Regions from separate parts of the Homo sapiens genome. Here region 2 is linked to region 1. Evidence: fine-mapped expression QTL. A gene starts in region 1. The other region holds a variant in brackets. All regions are shown on one strand. Distances are from middle to middle. Region 1 holds the start of IQCK (IQ motif containing K). Region 2 overlaps IQCK (IQ motif containing K).

The links. PIP is the estimated chance that this variant, and not a neighbour inherited with it, causes the effect.
Region 2: its variant is the best candidate, but not a certain one, in a credible set for the expression of IQCK in whole blood (TOPMed, PIP 0.82).

Annotation. Positions count from the first base shown.
Region 1 is chr16:19,713,576-19,723,708 of GRCh38, reverse strand. It overlaps IQCK (IQ motif containing K), which reads right to left and starts at 5,438. Exons shown (of 9, transcript NM_153208.3): 1 at 5,222-5,438. The coding sequence starts at 5,402. It overlaps KNOP1 (lysine rich nucleolar protein 1), which reads left to right and starts at 5,482. Exons shown (of 5, transcript NM_001012991.3): 1 at 5,482-5,551; 2 at 8,672-9,591. The coding sequence starts at 8,674. RefSeq lists an enhancer at 5,229-5,558.
Region 2 is chr16:19,734,417-19,744,549 of GRCh38, reverse strand. IQCK (IQ motif containing K) reads right to left here. Exons shown (of 9, transcript NM_153208.3): 4 at 9,100-9,197. Among named protein-coding and RNA genes, the nearest start is that of IQCK, 21 kb to the right of the region's middle. The variant G/A (reference allele first, on the strand shown) is at 3,966.

The sequences.
Region 1 (10,133 bases):
GTGCTAGGATTACAGGCTTGAGCTACCACGCCCGGCCAGGAAGCTGCATTTTAACATGTATCCAGGAGATTTTGATGTAGGTGCTCCCAGTCCATGCTTTAAAACCATGCTGGTGTCTTCTTCAGGGGTTTGAACTTGAGAGTCAAAACAGACTTGAGTTTGAAGCCGACCCTGCCGCTTACTTTGGGCAAGTTTCCTAACCTTTCTAAGCCTCAATTTCCTCATCTGTTGCTGTGAGGCTTAAATGAGAAGTAATGCACCTAGCACAATGCCTGGCACATAAACAGCAGCTCAATAAATGGTTGCCATTAGGATGATTTGGGTGAATGGTATGTTGTGAACTAAGAAAAGTAAACAGAGATGGGACGTTAAGAAGCTTAAGGGTTAAGCTAAGGAGTTTATCTGTAAGCTATGAAAATCATTGTAGGTCACAGCATGATGCGATTAGATTTGAATTTTAGAGAGGTTCCTACGACAGCCAGTGGGATATGGTCTGGAAGGAGGCCTGCCTCAATTAACAAGCCACAGCAGCAATCTAAGCAGGGGGTGGTAAGGGCCTGATCTAAGGCAGCAGACATGAAGACTGGTGGGGGTGGGGAGTGGGGGCAGGGTGGGGATGGTGGGAGATATTAAACAGGTAGAATCTATAAGGACTGGCAAATGAGAGTGTGGGGCCGTGGAAAGTGAAAGGGAAGCAGGCCGGATGCGGTAGCTCACGCCTGTAATCCCAGCACTTTGGGAGGCTGAGGCGGGTGGATCACCTAAGGTCAGGAGTTCGACACCAGCCTGGCCAACATGGTGAAACCCCACCTAAAAATACAAAAATTAGCTGGGCATGGTGTCAAGTGCCTGTAATCCCAGCTACTCAGGAGGCTGAGGTGGGGGAATTGCTTGAACCTGGGAGGTGGAAGTTGAAGTAAGCAGATATCGCACCTCTGTACTCCAGCCTGGGCAACAGAGCAAGACTCTGTCTCAAGGGAAGGAAAAAAAAAAAAAAGCTGGACTGGGCAGCTGAGTGAACGATGGTAACATTCGTGGAGATGGAGATAAGTTGTTGGCGTCTAAAACAGTGCCTGCAGTTATACCTGGCCCAGCATTGAAAACAGTTCCCAGCCCTGGTAGATACAAGTTGGCTCAATGCTTAAGAACAATTTATTCGGAGAAATGAGGAAGAAGCTGGTCTGCCCTTAGTTGATAAGGGAATGGGAATGAAAGACTGATAGGAGCTGGAAGAGGATATAGGGTCATGGTGGAGGTTTCTTCCTGATATGACAGGCCAGGGGTGTTTGGAGGAAAAAGCTAGTAGAGAAGTTAAAGGCGTAGCAGAGGAAGTGAGTGATAAAGCAGGATCCTGGAATAGCAAGGGGACGGTAAGCAAAGATGGAGAGCTGAGTGGCGAGTAGCGGGGTGAGAGCTTCTTCCACGTGTACAGATGGATGTTAGCAGACTCCCTCCCCACTCCTGACTGCCTGACTCTTCTCAGTGAACGCATCCTATGCTAAGAGGTATCACAGAACATTTCAGGAGGTGTTACAGACTTGGACTAGTAGAACCAGGCAATGGGAGAAGGCATTGAGAGATGCTGATTGCTGAGCAGTGCTGAGAGCCAGTTGGGGTCATCTTTCTTCAGCTGGCTCAGTGGCTGTGCTGGAGGAACAAGTATTGATTCACAACTGATCCATGTCGGTATCTGGCAGGTGAAATGAAAGGCCAGATTTTACAACAGCATTGAGGGCTGAGGCCAGAGAGTGCTTGATTAAGTGATGAACCAATGACAATAGTGAGGATGCTGATAACAGTAATCACAGCATATCAAAATAGGAAACTGTAAGGCCAGGCGCGGTGGCTCACGCCTGTAATCCCAGCACTTTGGGAGGATGAGGCGGGCTGACTGCTTGAGGTCAGGTGTTTGAGACCAGCTTGGCCAACATGGCAAAACCCCATCTCTACAAAAAATTAGCCAGGCATGGTGGTGGGTGCCTGTAATCCCAGCTATTTGGGAGGCTGAAGCAGGAGAATTGCTTGAATCTGGGAGGCAGAGGTTGCAGTGAGCCGAGATTGCGCCACTGCACTGCAGCCTGGGTGACAGAGCCAGACTTCATCTCAAAAAAAAAAAAAAAAGGAAACTGTTAAGCCCCACATCCTTTGATTGTCTTGATTAAAACCATGAACACAGCTAGTCACAAACTACTATAAGATTTGATTAGAAGTGTTGGCCGGGAAGAAGTTTATTGACACTAACACGAGTGCTTTTTAGAATACAAAACTCAGTTGTCACTGGAAAGATGAGGGAGAAAACTGAAGAATATTTACAAATAAGTTATAGTGGTGAGCATGCACATACATACAAAAGAGCACTAGTCAGGTTGGTTAAGGTCTGTGTAAGTTAGATATTGACCTACTTTGTATTTTGTCTTCATGAAATTGAGTTTCTGGCAGGTCTGTTTGCTATGATAATTTGTCTTTTGAATGGAGATTATCTTAAGAGAATGTAGTACTTAATCTCAAAGATAGGATTACTACAAAGCCTGTTTTTTCATGTTTGTTGTCAGAAACTGAATTTACTACATGTTATAGAAAACTGCATTTGTTAGATGTTTAAGAATTGGGTTTATCCATCTGTTATAATACTCATCACAGTGTCCATGTGTATAGTTTGCCAATGTTGACCTCACTGAATTGTTTTTTTTTTTTTTCTAGACGGATTCTTACTTTGTTGCCCAGGCTGGAGTGCAGTGGCACGATCTCAGGTCATTGCAACCTCCGCCTCTCAGGTTCAAGCGACTCTCCTGCCTCAGTCTCCTGAGTAGCTGGGATTACCCACCACCAAGCCTGACTTAGTTTTTATATTTTTAGTAGAGACAGGGTTTCAACATGTTGGCCAGGCTAGTCTCCAATTCCTGACCGCAGGTGATCCACCCGCCTTGGCCTCCCAAAGTGCTGGGATTACAGGTGTGAGCCACCATGCCTGACCTCATTCTGTAACTCTATCATTTTAAAAGTGGCATCAATTCACTTGCTCTTCAGAGAGAACCAAAACCCTTTGTCTTTGCTTTCTCTCTAGAGGCCTATTTGACCAAAATAAACTCGGTGTGTAAATCACAACACAAGGCATGTTTCTTTGTCAACAATAATGAACATTTATTGACTACTTTTTAAATGCCAGGCACTGTGCTAAGCACCTTTTCATACATTATCTTACTTGGTCCCCACAACAGCCCTGTGAGGTAGGCACAACAATTATCTGTCTCTTACAGATGAGGCTGAGTAACTTTTCTAACAATCCTCTAGTAAACTGTATTATAAGAAACTGTTTGGCTTGGAGAAGTGAAAGCTCTGGGGAAAAGGCAGCCACAATAACTACCGTCAAATTATCTGAGTAGATTCTTTGGGGTAGAGTGATTAGCTCCTTGGATCATAGCACCAAGAGGTAAGGACGTAGGGGTGAAAGTGACAAAGAGAACATGCAAAATGAAAGGGATTTTTCTAGCACAATGTAAGGTTGGAGAAGGAATTTAAGTACTGGATGGGGTTGAAACAGACAGCTTTGGAGGGCATCTATCAACTGAGTCTACTATTCTCTTCCTTCTCTGTATTCTCCACTTCTTTCGAGTCATCGCATATACTGGTACATTCATTCTTTTTTTCCATTCAATAAACATTTACTGACCTGCACTATCCAATACAGCAGCCACTATCCAAATGTGGCTATTTAAATTTATTAAAATTAAGTCTGGGCTGGGCCTGGTGGCTCAGGCCTGTAATTGTAGCACTTTGGGAGGCCGAGGCAGGTAGATCACCTGAGGTCAGGAGTTCAAGAGCAGCCTGGCCAAAATGGTGAAACCCCTTCTCTACAAAAATAAAAAAATTAGCCAGGAATGATGACGGGTGCCTGTAATCCCAGCTACTCAGGAGATTGAGGTGTGAGAATGCTTGAACCCGGGAGGCGGAGGTTGCAGTGAGCCCAGCCAGTGCCACTGCATTCCAGCCTGGGCGACAGAGCAACATGCCGTCTCAAAAAAAAAAAAAAAAAAAAAATTTGAGTCCAACAAGAAATTCAGTTACTCAATTGCACTAATCACATTTCAAATGCTAACTAACCACACTTTTTTTTTTTTGGGGATGGAGTCTCGCTCTGTCACCCAGGCTGGAGTGCAGTGGCGCAAACTCGGCTCACTGCAACGCCACCTCCCTGGTTCAAGCAATTCCCTTTCCTCAGCCTCCCAAGTAGCTGAGATTATAGGCGCACACCACCACGCCCAGATAATTTTTTTTTTGTATTTTCAGTAGAGACGGGGTTTCACCGCGCTGTTTCAGGCAGCTTAGGTAGTGATGGTGGCCACACGAATGAAAAATCTGAGTCCTTGACCTTGAGGAGCTTATGGTCTAGTGGAGGAAAAAGAAAACATCCCACCCAACATTATTCATTAAGAACTAGCGCTTACGTAGCTCCTTCTGTAAATCGAGCAGTTTGTGTTTTTTTTTCCCCAATAATCCTTTTGCCCTCCTAAAATCAGGCAGTTTGCTAAGCACTTTTTGTGACTATCTGGTTCCATCTTCTTAACACCATCGAAATAGGTGCCATTATTATGCCCACTTTGCAGACAGGGTCATAAGTTAAATAATTTGCCCAACCTAAGTAACAAATACTGAGTAGAGCCACAAAGGAAGATGTGCTCAACTCCGCCTGGGGAGGTTAAGGAAGGTTTGAAGCAAGAAGGGACTAAAACCCGTTTGTCCACACCATGGTTACTGAACGTGTGGGCCACCGACTACCTACGTTAGGATTACCTGGGGTGCTCTTTTAAAAAGTGCAGATTCCCTGCATCCCAATTTGAAGCTCTGTGGGCGGGGCCTGGGAACCTCCGTTTATAACAAGATCCCCACCCCGGCCCCCGCCCCAGCAATTCCTTTCGGTTCACTAACCGAGGTTTAAGAACCAATGGTCCACACCGCATGGTTCTCTTTATTCAGCTTTCCCTCGCCGTTCCCTTGCCTTTAACCTCACTACGGATCGCGATTGGAGTCCGCGCTGCGTAACCTCGGGCCAGCCTCTCCGAGCCTCAGTTTCCCCATGCGTAAAATGCGGAGCCCGGGCCCGCGGAGCCGCTGCCCGGCGGCCCCGCCCGTCAGCCGACAGGCGCACAGTGGGCGCTCCCCAAACGCGGCCCCCGTCCGGCCGCCCGGGTCCCGCCCCTCTCGGCCAGCCCAGGTTTCCTACCCTTGCAGATCTGCTCCCACAGATTCTTGCTTGACGGCTCGGTGACCTGCCACGACGAGACAGGCAGCTCGCGGGACGCGAGAGACACGGTGGGCACCGGCGTCCGGGTGAACGACGAGTCTGTAGAGCAGCTGGGCTTGAGGCGCACTATGTGGCTGGGGATTTGCCGCGGTGCCGCCATGGCCGCGGTTTCCACGGTAACCGCGTTCGCCGGAAGGCCGCGACCCGGAAGAAGCCGGAACCCGAGAGGGTGGGCCGGCGACTCGAAGTGGACTTCCGGGTCACGGCGGAGCTGGCTCTCACGTGGAGGCGGGGAAATTTCGCCCACCGGTGAGTGCCAGGGCGCGTTGCAGGCGGGCCGGCGCGGGGTGTGGAGATTGCACCAGAGGAAGTGCGCGGCGGGGAAGATGGGGAAATGCGGTCCACCCACATCCCTGAATCCGACCCCTCCAGTCGGTGTGCGCCCGCTCCGGCCTGAGGCCGCCGCCTCCAGAAAGTTTTCCCGCCTCAGAGCCGGCCCTGGGACCCCACGTAATCCCTCCCAGTCTGTTGATGCGGAGGCTTGGGCCCATGGGAGCCTTGGAGGTACGGATCTTACTTCCTGGCTCCCGCGCGTCCTGCTGGTGATCCTGCCGGGGGAGTGGGGTGTTGCTGCACAGGCTTTGGAGTCCTGTGGGCGGAATTCCAGTCTCCGTTTTCCACTTGCTGGCTTTGGAACCTAGGGCAAGTGAATTATTGTAGTCTCTGGAGCTTGCGAGGTCGGGTATTCACAAAGATCTTCACAAGGCTGTCCCTGGAATTTAAAAGCGGTTTTGGAGAAAGCGTTTGCGTTTGCAGGAGATGCACTGTAACGTTCTTTTCCTTTCTCCTTGAAAGAGTGAATGCATTTGGTCGCAGGGCTAAAGAGGAGGATGCTATACTTTTCTAAATGGCAAGAGATGGGGAGAGAAGGGGATTAAGAGTTGACCCGCAACCTCCCGGTGGATTCTTTGTTCTTACCAGATCTCTTGGCCACTCCCCTATTCTGAAGTCGTCTTGGCTCTCTTGACTGCTCCCCTATTCTGAAGTCGTCTTGGCTCTCTTGACTGCTCCCCTATTCTGAAGTCGTCTTGGCTCTCCTGACTACACTATTTCAAGGTTTGCACCTTCTTCTTTGCAAGCTCCTTTATCTCTGCCCACTTATTTAAATGCCAATACAATAGTCCCCCTCCCCCATTATCCGCGGGCAGTACGTTCCTAAACCCCCAGTGGATGCCTGAAACCACAGACAGTACCGAACCCTAAATATAACTGTTTTTTCTTGTGTATACTATCTATGAGAAAGTTTATAAATTAGGCACAGTAGGGCCGGGCGTGGTGGCTCATGCCTGTAATCCCAGCACTTTGGGAGGATGAGGCGGGCGGATCACCTGAGGCCAGTAGTTGGAGACCAGCCTGGCCAACATAGTAAAACCCCGTCCCTACTAAAAATACAAAAATTAGCCGGGCGTGGTGGTATGTGCCTGTAATCCCGGCTACTCGGGAGGCTGAGGCGTGAAAATTGCTTGAACCCGGGAGGTGGAGGTTGCAGTGAGCCGAGATGATGCCACTGCACTCCAGCCTGGGCAACAGAGCCAGACCTTGTCTCACAAAAAATTAGGTGCAGTAAACGATTACCAACAATCTAGCTAGTAATAAAATAGAACAATTACAACAGTATACTGTAATAAAAGTTGCATGCATGTGGTCTCCCTCTCAAGATAACTTCCTGTACTGTGCTCACCTATTTTGGGACCAGGGTTGACCAGGGGTAACGGAAACCTGGGATTAGGTGGCGAGCTACTGTATTTCTTGAAGTCTTGTCTCAGGCTTGTTCTGTTCAAGGCTTATCACCACCCATACATTCCTAACTTTATGTCGCCCGTGTCAGCACGGCCACCCAAACTCCTCATCCATATATATTCACCTGTCCAGTGAACATCTCCAAGTCATCTGTCCAATCAAGCCTGTTCTTCAGCCACTTGCCTTCAGTACCTTTGTCTCAGGGATTAATACCACCATCCTGCAGTTGTTCTTCAGAAATTTTCCTGACAACTGGTAGGACAGGTTCCACAACCTCCACCACCCTGACCTTAGCACTGTCCTTGCTTTTATCACCTGTATCATTGTATTACACCTTATTCCCTCCCACACCTACTTGCTTCTTGATGGGTGGTGTTTTATCTTGTTCATCTCTGTATCCCTAGCATGTGTGCATTCATTCAGTGAGTATGTATTGAGCACCTGCTATGTGCCAGGCACTGAGCAGGACACTGGAAATAAACCAGGAAACAGGGCAGACAGCAATGAATGAGTATAGTTATTCCCTTGACTCTCCAGGTGCGCCTGGAGTGGGTTATGAATGAACTTGACCTGTAGCTCAGGCCTGGCTCTTTGAAGCTGCTAAGAGAGAGCCAGCTCCAGTGTGGACCCTCTGAGTTCCGAAGCTGAGGAGGGCTGCAGGATGGAGAAGTTTTTCCTTTCCCTCCCATGATCCTAACTTGCTATGAAATATTTTGGGATATTTTGCTTCTAGATTCTGGGAATGTCTAGTGCAGGAACTTGGCTGGGGACTGGAGTGAGAGCAGTGGTCCAGCTGGACACTGATGGGTATTGAGGACCCCAGCCCATTCTCACAGGTGCTTCCACGATATCTGTCCAAGACAAGCTGGGTGCCCTCAGTACTGTGCATCATTGTGACTCATTCAGTGTTGGCAATCAACTTCAAATTTTAAAAACAGTGGAACTAGGCCAGGCAAGGTGGCTCATGCGTGTAATCCCAGCACTTTGGGAGGCTGAGGCGGGCGGATCACTTGAGGTCAGGAGTTTGAGACTAGCCTGGCCAACATGGAGAAACCCCGTCCCTCCTAAAAAAGAAAAAAAAAATTAGCTGGGCATGATCACGGGTGCCTGTTATCCCAGCTACTCAGGGGAGGCTGAGGCAGGAGAATCACTTGAACCCAGGAGACGGAGGTTGCAGTGGGCCGAGATCACGCCACTGCATTCCAGCTTGGGTGACAGAGCAAGACTCTGTCTCAAAAAAAAAAAAAAAAAAAGAGAAAAAGAAAAAGGGAATTAACAGTGTACCAAGCCCTTTCCATGGGTTATCTCATTTACTCCCTCCAACACCCTTTTGAGGAGGGAGGTGTTATATTCCCCCATTTTCCAGATGGAGAAATTGAGGCTCAGGGAGGTTAGCTGATTTACTTAAGGTGAGAGAGGCATTTAGGTTTGAACCTAGGGCTGTGTGGATTTAAAATTTACGCTGTTTCTGTAGTATTTCTTTTTTTGCTTTAAAGGAATCATGTCCATTTTCCCTGTCCCACAACGCTTTGACCACCCACTCAAAGAAACATGGCTCTTGGCAATGCTTAGTAGAATTGAACACAGGATGGCTTGGTATGGGATAACTTGTACCATTTGTTTTTTCAGGAATGATCACCAAGACACACAAAGTAGACCTTGGGCTCCCAGAGAAGAAAAAGAAGAAGAAAGTGGTCAAAGAACCAGAGACTCGATACTCAGTTTTAAACAATGATGATTACTTTGCTGATGTTTCTCCTTTAAGAGCTACATCCCCCTCTAAGAGTGTGGCCCATGGGCAGGCACCTGAGATGCCTCTAGTGAAGAAAAAGAAGAAGAAAAAGAAGGGTGTCAGCACCCTTTGCGAGGAGCATGTAGAACCTGAGACCACGCTGCCTGCTAGACGGACAGAGAAGTCACCCAGCCTCAGGAAGCAGGTGTTTGGCCACTTGGAGTTCCTCAGTGGGGAAAAGAAAAATAAGAAGTCACCTCTAGCCATGTCCCATGCCTCTGGGGTGAAAACCTCCCCAGACCCTAGACAGGGTGAGGAGGAAACCAGAGTTGGCAAGAAGCTCAAAAAACACAAGAAGGAAAAAAAGGGGGCCCAGGACCCCACAGCCTTCTCGGTCCAGGACCCTTGGTTCTGTGAGGCCAGGGAGGCCAGGGATGTTGGGGACACTTGCTCAGTGGGGAAGAAGGATGAGGAACAGGCAGCCTTGGGGCAGAAACGGAAGCGGAAGAGCCCCAGAGAACACAATGGGAAGGTGAAGAAGAAAAAAAAAATCCACCAGGAGGGAGATGCCCTCCCAGGCCACTCCAAGCCCTCCAGGTCCATGGAGAGCAGCCCTAGGAAAGGAAGTAAAAAGAAGCCAGTCAAAGTTGAGGCTCCGGAATACATCCCCATAAGTGATGACCCTAAGGCCTCCGCAAAGAAAAAGATGAAGTCCAAAAAGAAGGTAGAGCAGCCAGTCATCGAGGAGCCAGCTCTGAAAAGGAAGAAAAAGAAGAAGAGGAAAGAGAGTGGGGTAGCAGGAGACCCTTGGAAGGAGGTAGTTTTTCCTTCAGAAATGGACTTTGCCGTGGGAGAATTAAGGGTGGGGTTTGGGAGGGGTGTGTAGGCGTGTGTGCATGTTTGTACATGCACGAGTACTCATGCTTTTAGCTAAAACCCTGGTTAAATTAATTTCAGCCAGAATAGGGAGTTTATTGATATATGCAATTGGAAAGGTTATGGTTAACTAGCTTCAGGTATGGCTGGATCTAGGGGCTCATGCAGTATCATCGATAATTGCAGGTATCCTTTGCTACTGAAACCACCCAAGTTTTCCCTGTCTGCCGTTGGGGTCTGAATTAACTGGGATCAATTTTTCAGATGAATCCCTTGCTTTCTGAACTCTTGCCACTTGCTATCCAAAACTCAGGAACCAAGTAACATGAGATAACGTAGTGCCTGTAGCTATCTGAGTATCATCACAGCTCAGTATACACAATTTATACATCAAATAGATTTGGGTAGCCGGAGATGCCTGTATGAGATTTCCTCAGCTCTGGGCTTTGTATTTTTCTATCTTGGTTTATGGCCCATCCTCCT
Region 2 (10,133 bases), 21 kb before region 1:
TAAGGTTTATTCTCCCAATTGTAATCTCCACCAAAAATTAAGGATTAGGGAAATACCTGCCTATTAAATATGCTGAATTTTACATTGAGCATTTAAAATAGAGTTAAATATCTAAGATGGGCCAGGTGCACTGGCTTATCCCTGTAATCCCAGGACTTTGGGAAACCAAGGCAGGAGGACCACTTGAGCTCAGGAGTTTGAGACCAGCCTGGGCAACACAGTGAGACCCCATCTCTAAAAATAAAAATGAAAATAATTTTTAAAATGAAAAAATATACTATTTGTGTGCTTAGAGAAAAGAAGAAAAAATAATCTAAGCAGGAACAACTGTTTGTTTAGAAACTATATTAAATTCATAGTATTTAAAATGATATATATAAAAGAATCACAAGATGAGTGACTCAAAATCAAAATAATCAAGCTTGCATAGCTTTTGGGGAACAGGCCTGGGTTGAAAGGGTCTGCCTGATTCCAGAGGCTGGAATCATGGAATTGCTGAACCATGTACCACACAATGCCTGAATTCATGTGTGCAGACACACCTACACCTATACACACACCCACACACACCACACACCACACAATAGATGTGTGTGTAATTGGCCAAATGCTCTATGGCATAGTAATTAGGTGCCAGCTCTTGCTGTTTCTCTGTCTGCTCTGTTCCCCCTGGTCTTCCTTGGAGTTTCATGGTACTGGCAGGACAACCTAAATAAAAGGCTTGCTAACTTCTCACTCCTTTTCTCCACAGCCTCCAGACCCATCTTTCATGTCAGAATCTGACCTCTGCTTTCAGCAAGCTGTGTGACTGACCATCAGAGTGGAGCAGTGGTCAAACTCTTAGACTCTGGAACAATTCTTGGTTTGAGTCTTGGCTCTGCCACTTTCTAGCTGTGAACTTAAGCTTCTTGGTTAGCCCTGGTGCTGTACAGCCCTGATCCATAAGATGATGATAATAGCATCCACCTCCAAAGATTGTTGGGAGGATTAAATGAGTGACTGCAGGTAAAGTGCTTAGAATGACATCTGGCACAAAGCAAGGCTCAAAAAGTGCTGACAACTACTATTCTTGAATCCTAGCCTCTTGCTCTACTCTCTGGCTCTCCATTGTCTGTGAATGAGGCTCCTTCAATTTGAGGGGATTTGCTCCTTGCCCAGCTCCAGCTCCAGGGAGCCTAGCAGACTTAGGCGGTCTCCCCATTGTTTACCTCCCTCCAGAGGCAGTAGATCCAGTCACTGCAGGTATAGTTAATAAATTACCTCCTGTGTGTAATAACTACAACAAACTGAATAAAGGTCACAGACCTCCAGAGTGCTCATGTAGCTTAATTATGATCTTAAAAGTAGGCCCTGACTTTTATTTATTTATTTATTTATTTGAGACAGAATCTCACTCTGCCACCCAGGCTGGAGGGCAGTGGCGTGATCTCAGCTCACTGCAACCTTTGCAACCTGGGTTCAAGCGATTCTCCTGCCTCAGCCTCCCGAGTAGCTGGAATTACAGGCACGTGCCACCATGCCCAACTAATTTTTTTGTATTCTTAGTAGAGACAGGGTTTTGCCATGTTGGCCAGGGTGGCCTTGAACTCCTGACCTCAAGTGATCTACCCGCCTCGGCCTCCCAAAGTGCTGGGATTATAGGCATGAGCCACTGCATCTGGCCAGCCCCATCTTTTGAGAATCCATATTCATTCATTTATCCAATAAATACTCATTGAGTTCCTACTATGTTCCAGGCACTATGGGGGCCATGTCATAGAAAGAAAAAACAGAAAAATAATGAAGTCAAGTATAAATAACTAGACATCAGCAGTTTAAGGGCAAAACGCAGATCAGCAAGTATTTTTGAGCAACTTAATATAAATGTTATTTCAAGATATAATTTGAATGGCATCAATAAACAATGAATTACGCTGCTGTGTAAGAGCCAATTGGATGCAAGTTCAGTTGTGGGTGACAGATAAAAATGCCCCAGTTATGTAATTTTGGTTGGAGGCCAGTCATCATTCAGTTTAAGCATCTATTCCCAATGACAGGATGTGAGGAACAGCTGAATCAAGAAAATGTGAATCTGTTGTGCAGATCAGGATAAGGGGAGTTCCACTTGGGTCTGACAAATGTTGAAATGGTACTAATGTCATTTTTAAGCCTTCGAAAATAACCCACAAAAGACTAGATGACCGGGGACGGGGGAACATGGAGGGAATCCGATTTAATTAAAAAACCCTAAGTCAGGAAATGAAGAAAGTTAATAGTAATTTACCCACCTTGCGTATTTGTAGCATTCAAAATACTGAACTTCCTGGCAAAGCGTGAGAAGCAGAGGAGGAGGAAGTTAACATTCCTTGGGTCTGGAAGTATCATTCATTACTTCCCCTCTTCCGCCCAATGACAGGAGCAGGTCTGCTGTCCTTTCAATAGTTGAGGAAACTGAGGCTCACGGATTACTTAGGGCCATGCTGCAAGGAAGCAGTCTAGCAGGATTTTGAACTCCCGTGTGCCTGCCTTTCAAGCTTCTCCACTCTTATAAGTGAACAAGTTTGTTGTTGTTTTTGTTGTTTTTGAGACTCAGTCTCACTCTGTCACCCAGGTTGGACTGCAGTGATGAGATCTTGGCTCACTGCAAGCTCTGCCTCCCAGGTTCAAGCAAGTCTCCTGACTCAGCCTCCCAAGTAGCTGAAATTACAGGTGCCTGCAACCACACCTGGCTAATTTTGGTATTTTTAGTAGAGACGGGATTTCACCATGTTGCCCAGGCTGGTCTCGAACTCCTGGGTTCAAGCAATCCTCCCGCCTCGGCCTCTCTAAGTGGTGGGATTACAGGCATGAACCACCATGCCTGGCCACATATGAACAGTTTTAACAACCCACATTTTCTACATTGCTTTATCATTCATTATACAATTTAAACTTTAATGCTCTGTTCAAGCACCCTGGAGCATCTGACATCTAGACTGTTTTCATTTAGTCTCAGGAGTAGCTCATCTGTAGGATGTCAACAATGAAATATGAGTTGGCACAAGGATGCCTCATTAATCTCTAATATAATTAGAAATTTATCTGGTTCTTTCAAAGCATTTTATCACTGCTTACAGGCTGGAAACTGTTTCTAGCCCCCTTGTTACAAAATTATTTATGGTCAAATATTAGATATGCAACCTTCATGTAAAATCTTAATTACTGCCCTTTTAGCTGATTTTTGTGCCCTCTGAAAGGGTATAAATTAGAAGAATAATGGCCAAGTAAATTAGAATAAAGGTTGCACAATGGAATATACATGCACCAAGGTCTAGAAATGAATCCCCAGCTACAGATCCACTGTAGCCATTTCTCCTTATTCATTCTTATTTCAGAGGAGTGAAAAAAACAGACACAAGGGGAAGAAAAATAAAAACAACTTTAGTTCATCATTATGGCTCCTCTAGGACAGGACCATGTCTTCTTGTCCCCTCAGTGTGCCCTGGGGTCTGGCCTCATGATCAGCACACAGCAGGGCTTAATGAATGTTTGTTGAACAGAACCAAACATGGGCGACTCATCCTGCTTCATCCTGCTTGTAGATATTCTTTTTTTTTTTTTTTTTAGATGGAGTCTCGCTCTGTTGCCCAGGCTGGAGTGCAGTGGCACGATCTTGGCTCACTGCAACCTCTGCCTCTCGGATTCAAGCCATTCTCCTGCCTCAGCCTCCCGAGTAGCTGGGACTCAGGCACCTGCCACCACGCCCGGCTAATTTTTGTATTTTTAGTAGAGATGGGGTTTCACCATGTTGGCCAGGCTGGTCTCAAACTCCTGACTGCATGATCCACATGCCTCAGCCTCCCAAAGGGCTGGCATTACAGGCATGACCCACCGTGCCCGGCCAGATATTCTTTACATGTATGAAAACAAAGATTATTCCACTGTGCTCATTTCATTGTTTGATCATTATATTCCATCCTTTGTTCAATCGAATAAAAAGACACAGT[G/A]CACTCAATATACTTTGGTCAACAGCAAGATAGGAAAAAGTGATACAATTGCTGAAATGTGACTCGTGAGGTGCTCTTCCTCACTTAGCAGCAGAACAGAAGGCAGAGGGACAAAGCCATCTGACAATGGTGTGGCCAGGCTGAAGGTCTGCTCTGGGACCACTCTTCAACCCAGCCTCACTCCCCTTCCATTCAGCCACACCTTGCACCTGTTTAACACCACGGGATACCTACCAACTGTATCACACCACAATTTGATACAATTTCTGATGATGATCATAGCAGTAGTCAAAACACAGATGATGGGGGAAGGTCAGTTATGAGTAGTGGACAAGAATTAAATTGTCAGGAAAAGCCAAGTGAGCAAATGAAAAAACAGATAAGAATTAGAAGCCGTTTAAATTTGATAACTGAAGGCAAGTAAGCAGTCTGTTCTTCAGAAAATAGCTATGAATGAAAAAAAATCAGTATCTCTGGGAGCTATTTTGAGGACAGCCTCCAACTCCCATTTACTAGGAGGGATGGAAACCCAGGCTTCAGGATCATCTGGGCCTTGGTTGGAGATGTGTGCTGTCTGTTGCTTACTAGGTGACCTTGAGTAATGCTCAACTTCTCTGTGTCCCAGGGCCATCCTTGGTAAAAGGGAGGTGATGAAAAAGAAGATCTGGTTCAGAAGGTTATTGTAAGGGTGAAACAAGATGGTGCATAGGATGCCAGTGCTGACGCACAACGGGCAATAAATCAATGAGAGGGCTCCTCTTTTTTTTTTTGAGACAGGGTCTCACTCTGTCAACCAAGCTGGAGTGCAGTGGCGCCATCATGGTTCACTGCAGACTCAACTTCCAGGGTTCAAGTGATTCTCCCACCTCAGCCTCCCAAGTAACTGGAACCACAGGCATGTGCCACCATGCCCAGCTAATTTTCGTATTTTTTGTAGAGATGGGGTTTTGGCATGTTACCCAGGGTGGTCTCAAACTCCTAAGCTCCAGTGATCCACACGCCTCAGCCTCCCAAGGTGCTGGGATTATAGGCATGAGCCACCACACTGGGTCTTCTCTGACTTTTGATATAATTTCTGATGATTATCATACCAGTACTCAAACCACAGGTGACAGGAGAGCAATTACCTGGATTTAATCATCAGTACCTGAATCATTGACTTTATTTTACCAGCTTTTTTGTTTACAGTTCTCATCAGCAGAGTGCCCTCTCTTGTTAGTGAAAATAAGGGATCTGATCATTATGGTCTTCCCAGGTTCAATATGACAACCATGACTGTAGTAGCACATCAGGAGAAAGAGTGGGGACTGAGGTCCCCAGATTTGAATTCACCAGGCCTATGTGTCAAAACTAGGATTTCTGACAAAGCAATATGAGGAAAACCTTACAACTGTGTCTTTGTTGGGGTGAGAGATGTGAAGCCCCCACCCCCAGTTCCACCTGCAAGGGCTACATGATAGCTGAATTGCATTTAAGAGAGGAGGGAAAGCTGCATGCTGGGCTTGGCCTTGCTGAGTGGGCCATGCAAGCTGAGAGCCACAGCTGAATTGTTCAGGATCCAAAAGGGGTCTGCAGAGGGAGCATGGGGAGGGGGTTCCCAGAGGGTGAGAAATGCTTCCAGAGAGGACTAACGAAGTATTGCTTGATAAGTGCCAACACAACCCTCTTCCCCACCTTCCCATGAGAGAACCCATAAAACAAACCCTCCTTGCGAGATCACTGTGGAATTGGATGGTTTTTCTGGGAACTGGGACCAAGTCCTGAATAAGGACTCTAGATGGCGAAGGAACAAGAGTGACACCACTCAGGTAGCAGGTGTAACCCACAATATCTGGGAAGTACCTGTACCACTGTATCACTGAGATAAATAAGTTAACATGTATTGAGTTCTTCCTAGGTTCCAGGGACTGGCCTAAGTACTTTACATGAGCTACCTCATTTCATCGGCATAATAATCCCATGAGCAGGTGCTATGATCAGCCTCATTTTACATGGAAGGAAGTGATAATGGCTCAGAAAGATGAAATGACTTGTCCTGGGCTATGCTGCCAGCTGGGATGGAGGTGGACTTCAAAATCAGGTAACTTTGACTCAAGTGTTGCTCTTAACTGCTGCGCTATAAATCAAGGCCCAATTTACTAATTATTTGCATAATTAATATATGAGGTGGGGGGGGTCAGACTGTGTCATTTGCCCCTCACTGTTCTCCTCCATCAACTAAACTCATGAAATAGAAGCATATCTTCTTTCCTCACCCCTCCAGGGAATTTCTCCAGGGATGAGTCCAATAGAACAGCCTTCCCAGATAGAAGGAAGCTGGGTTTTGGTCAAAGACATAGTAATAGTGACATTCCCTGGTGTATAATCATGCATTCACTTATTTAATATTTATCAAGGGCCAACTCTATGTTCACCATGTGCTAGGCATTGGGTAGCATTGACTAAAGATATAAAAATAAATCAGAGAATCTGTCCCCAAGGAACTTAAAATACAGGGGGAGACAGACATGCATAAAATTAAGTATATGTGGGCTAAGAATGTCTTAATTAAGGATGTCTTAATTTGCCATAAAATGAGGAACAGATGAAATACTCTGAAATCTGAGAGTTGGGATCAATTACTTCTAGTTTGAGCCCAGCAGGGAACTGGAAGCTTCAGAGAGAAGTTATGGAGCTGAGTTTGGAAAAACAAGTAGAAGTTAAATATGCAGAGAAGAGGAGCTCAGGGATTTTTTTTCTAAAAAAAGCAGAAGCAGATGCACAGAGGCCGTGAGGTGGGGGTTGGTGCAGCGAACTTCGAGTGGTTCTGCTTGGGTGGAGGGTACCATCGGGAAGGGGAGCACTGCGGGGGAGAGACGGAGGGAGAAAGGAAGGAAGGAACCAATGAACACATGAACTAGGCAGAGCCTTGAAAGCTAGGCTGAGGGCTAGTGACTTCGTTATGTGGATCTACTGTTGTCAAATGGTGAACCACGGCCCAGAGGTGTATCCCAAATTCTTCCTTCCTAAGCGTGCTACCCAAATTCTGATCAATGTCTCATCATCCATTTCTGCCTCAAGTAAAGACACAACTGTCATGGTGACGCCTGTCAAAGGAATGTTATGCTGAGCAAATTAAGTGGCAGGCAATTAGGGGGAGGTATAATATGGAGTGATTAAGAGGCAAGTGGGGCAGGATACTGTGAAGGCATTGCTGAGGAAACATCGGGTATTTGCTAGAACATGGGAAAACCTTATTTCCTCAGTATATAGAAGTACCAGCACGGCAGTAGGCAGTTCTCAGATGGGGACCCTGTGCTGAAGGGCAACTAGTTGGGTGATATCATTAACTATGGATAATTTTATAGACCCTAGGATGTGTCAACCTCATTGGGGTTTACACTGTAATTACTGCCGACTTTTTTAGTATCTTTTTTTTCTTTTGGAGACAGGGTCTTGCTCTGTTTCCAGGCTGGGGTGCAGTGGCATGATCATGGCACACTGCAGCCTCAACTTCCAGGGCTCAGTTGATCCTCCCATCTCAGCCCCATGAGCAGCTGGGACTACAGGTATGCACCACCATGCCTGGCTAATTTTCTTTTTCTTTTTTTTTTTTTTTTTGTAAATACCGGGTCTCACTTTGTTGCCCAGGCTGGTCTCGAACTCCTGGGCTCAGACAATCCTTCTGCCTTGGCCTCCCAAAGTGCTGGGATTATGGGCATGAGCCACTGTGCCCGGCCTTTAGTATCATTTTGAATCATTTAATCTGGATTTGAGTCCTAACTCTGCCATTCACCCTTGATCACATTTCAGGCCTCTGTGTCCCTCCATTTTCTCCTCTGCAGAGTGCAGATAATAATAATAGAAGGAAGCTCACATGGCTGGGGAGAGCAACTGCAATAATGGAAGATGCAGCACTCAGCAAAGTGCCTGGCACAGAGCGAGTGCCTGGTCAATAATAAATGTTGTAATTTTACTCTCTTCATCTGGATCATCCAAAATTCTAGAATTCAAAACTGTGCAGGGAACACATACACCCAAAGTATCCCGTGAACTACGGAAAAGAGGGAGCCTCTAAGGGTATCCGCGTGGGTGTAGGCCAGCATCGGAACTCGGTTTCTACCGAGTTCACTGAGTTTTTGCCCAGTATCTACAATCAATCAATCAATCAATCAATCAGTCAGGCGTGGTGGTGCATACCCGTAGTCCCAGCTGCTCAGGAAGCTGAGGTGGGAGGATCAACTGAGCCCTGGAGGTTGAGGCTGCAGTGTGCCATGATTACGCCACTGCACCCCAGCCTGAAAACAGAGCAAGACCCTGTCTCAAAAAGAAAAAAGATACTAAACTAAAACTTCCCTGCAGAGAAGCTGATTCTCTGCAGTGTGATGTTAATGTTATTTACTGAGCACTTACTGTGTTCCAAGACTCTCTGCGAGCAGTTTACATTCATGACAGTTGGCATGGAGTAGAGAGATGCCAGGGGGAACAATCAATCTAGAGCCAAGTAAGAAGTAAGCAGAGTTCTGTGGGATTTTTTTTTTGAGTTGAGGGTCTTGCTATTGCCCAGGCTGGAGTGCAGTGACGTGATCATGGATCACTGCAACCTCAAACTTTGGGCCTCAAGGGGCCTTCCTGCCTCAGCCTCTTGAGTAGCTGAGGCTACAGGTATGCGCCACCACACCTAGCTAATTTAAAAAAAAATTTTTTTTAGAGATGGGGGTCTCACTATGTTGCCCAGTGGTCTTGAGCTCCTGGCATCAAGTGATCCTCCCACCTCAGCTTCCCAAAGTGCTGGGATTATAGGCATGGGCCACCGTGCCCGGCCAAGGAGAGCTTTAATCAGTGCATGTAATAAACAGAAGCTGAAGACCCAAGAAACCTGGTGGATGCCAAACTGCACAGGAGAAGGGCAGGCAGGAGGCCAAGCAAGGCGGAAAAGCTCTCCGGAGTCCAAGTGGCCAGACAGATGGCAGCGCATGTATGTGCACAACTAGATGGTGTGGCTGGAACTGGGTAAGTGACCCCAAACACAGGCTTTCCCTCCCGAAGGGGTCATCTGGAGAACAACCTGATGGTACCAAGATAATGAGCTATCATCTGATAATAATGAATGATTGAGAATCTCAAAATAAAGAAATCCTGCCAAACAACTGACCTCAAAACATTTTTCTTTCTTCGCTTGGTGAAGCAGGCTAGCCATTCCGGGAAGCAGAACAGGAAAGATGAAAGTTTCCAAATATTCTTTGGGAGAACCTAAAACAAACAAACAAAAATTCCCCCTGCAAATCCCCAGTGGCCCGAGCCAATCTGGGAGAAATGTTTACTTTTGAGCCAGAAAAAGGTACTGTCCATTCAATCACATGATCTTAGATGTTATATTTTGCTCCAGACTACAGAGCTGGGCTGTATAACTAAAGTAACTTAAAATGTCCCTCTGAGCCTCTATAGTCTGGTGAAGATGTAGGAAGTATCCTACATAAGGCCAGGTCCACCAGCTTGTTATGGCCCCAAAGCAGGAATAGCAAGGGGCCCAGTGTGGCCGGAGGGACAAAAACAAGGGGAGTGTGGTAGGAAATGGGAGCAGAGAGGAATTGGGAGTCAGAGTATAATGGGTAAGGGCTTAGGGTCACAGTAATAAAGGCAGTCGTTAGCCAAGGCCCAAGGCATGCAGAAGGCACAGAACAAACCAGTAGGAGAGGGTCTGGTACCAGGGAGGGCCCAAGGAACTACGACTCAGATCTGCAGTATACACCCCTGCTTCCACACACAAAGCAGGGAAGCATGATGATGTTTTCTTCTACTTTTTACTTTTTTTTTTTTTTTTTGAGACAGAGTCTCACTCTGTCGCCCAGGCTGGAGTGCAGTGGCACAATCATAGCTCACTGCATCCTGGACCTCTCAGGCTCAAGCAATCTTCCCACCTTAGCCTCCCAAATAGCTGAGACTGCAAGTACCTGCCACCACACCCAGCTAATTTTTTTTTTTTTCTCGCTCTGTCACCCAGGCTGGAACGCAGTGGTGCGATCTCAGCTCACTGCAACCTCCGCTTCCCGAGTGCAAGCGATTCTCCTGCCTCAGCCTCCCAAGTAGCTAGGGTTATCAGTGTGCACCACCATGCCTGGATAATTTTTTTTTTTTTTTTTTTTGTGATGGAGTCTTAGTCTGTTGCCCAGGCTGGAGTGCAGTGGC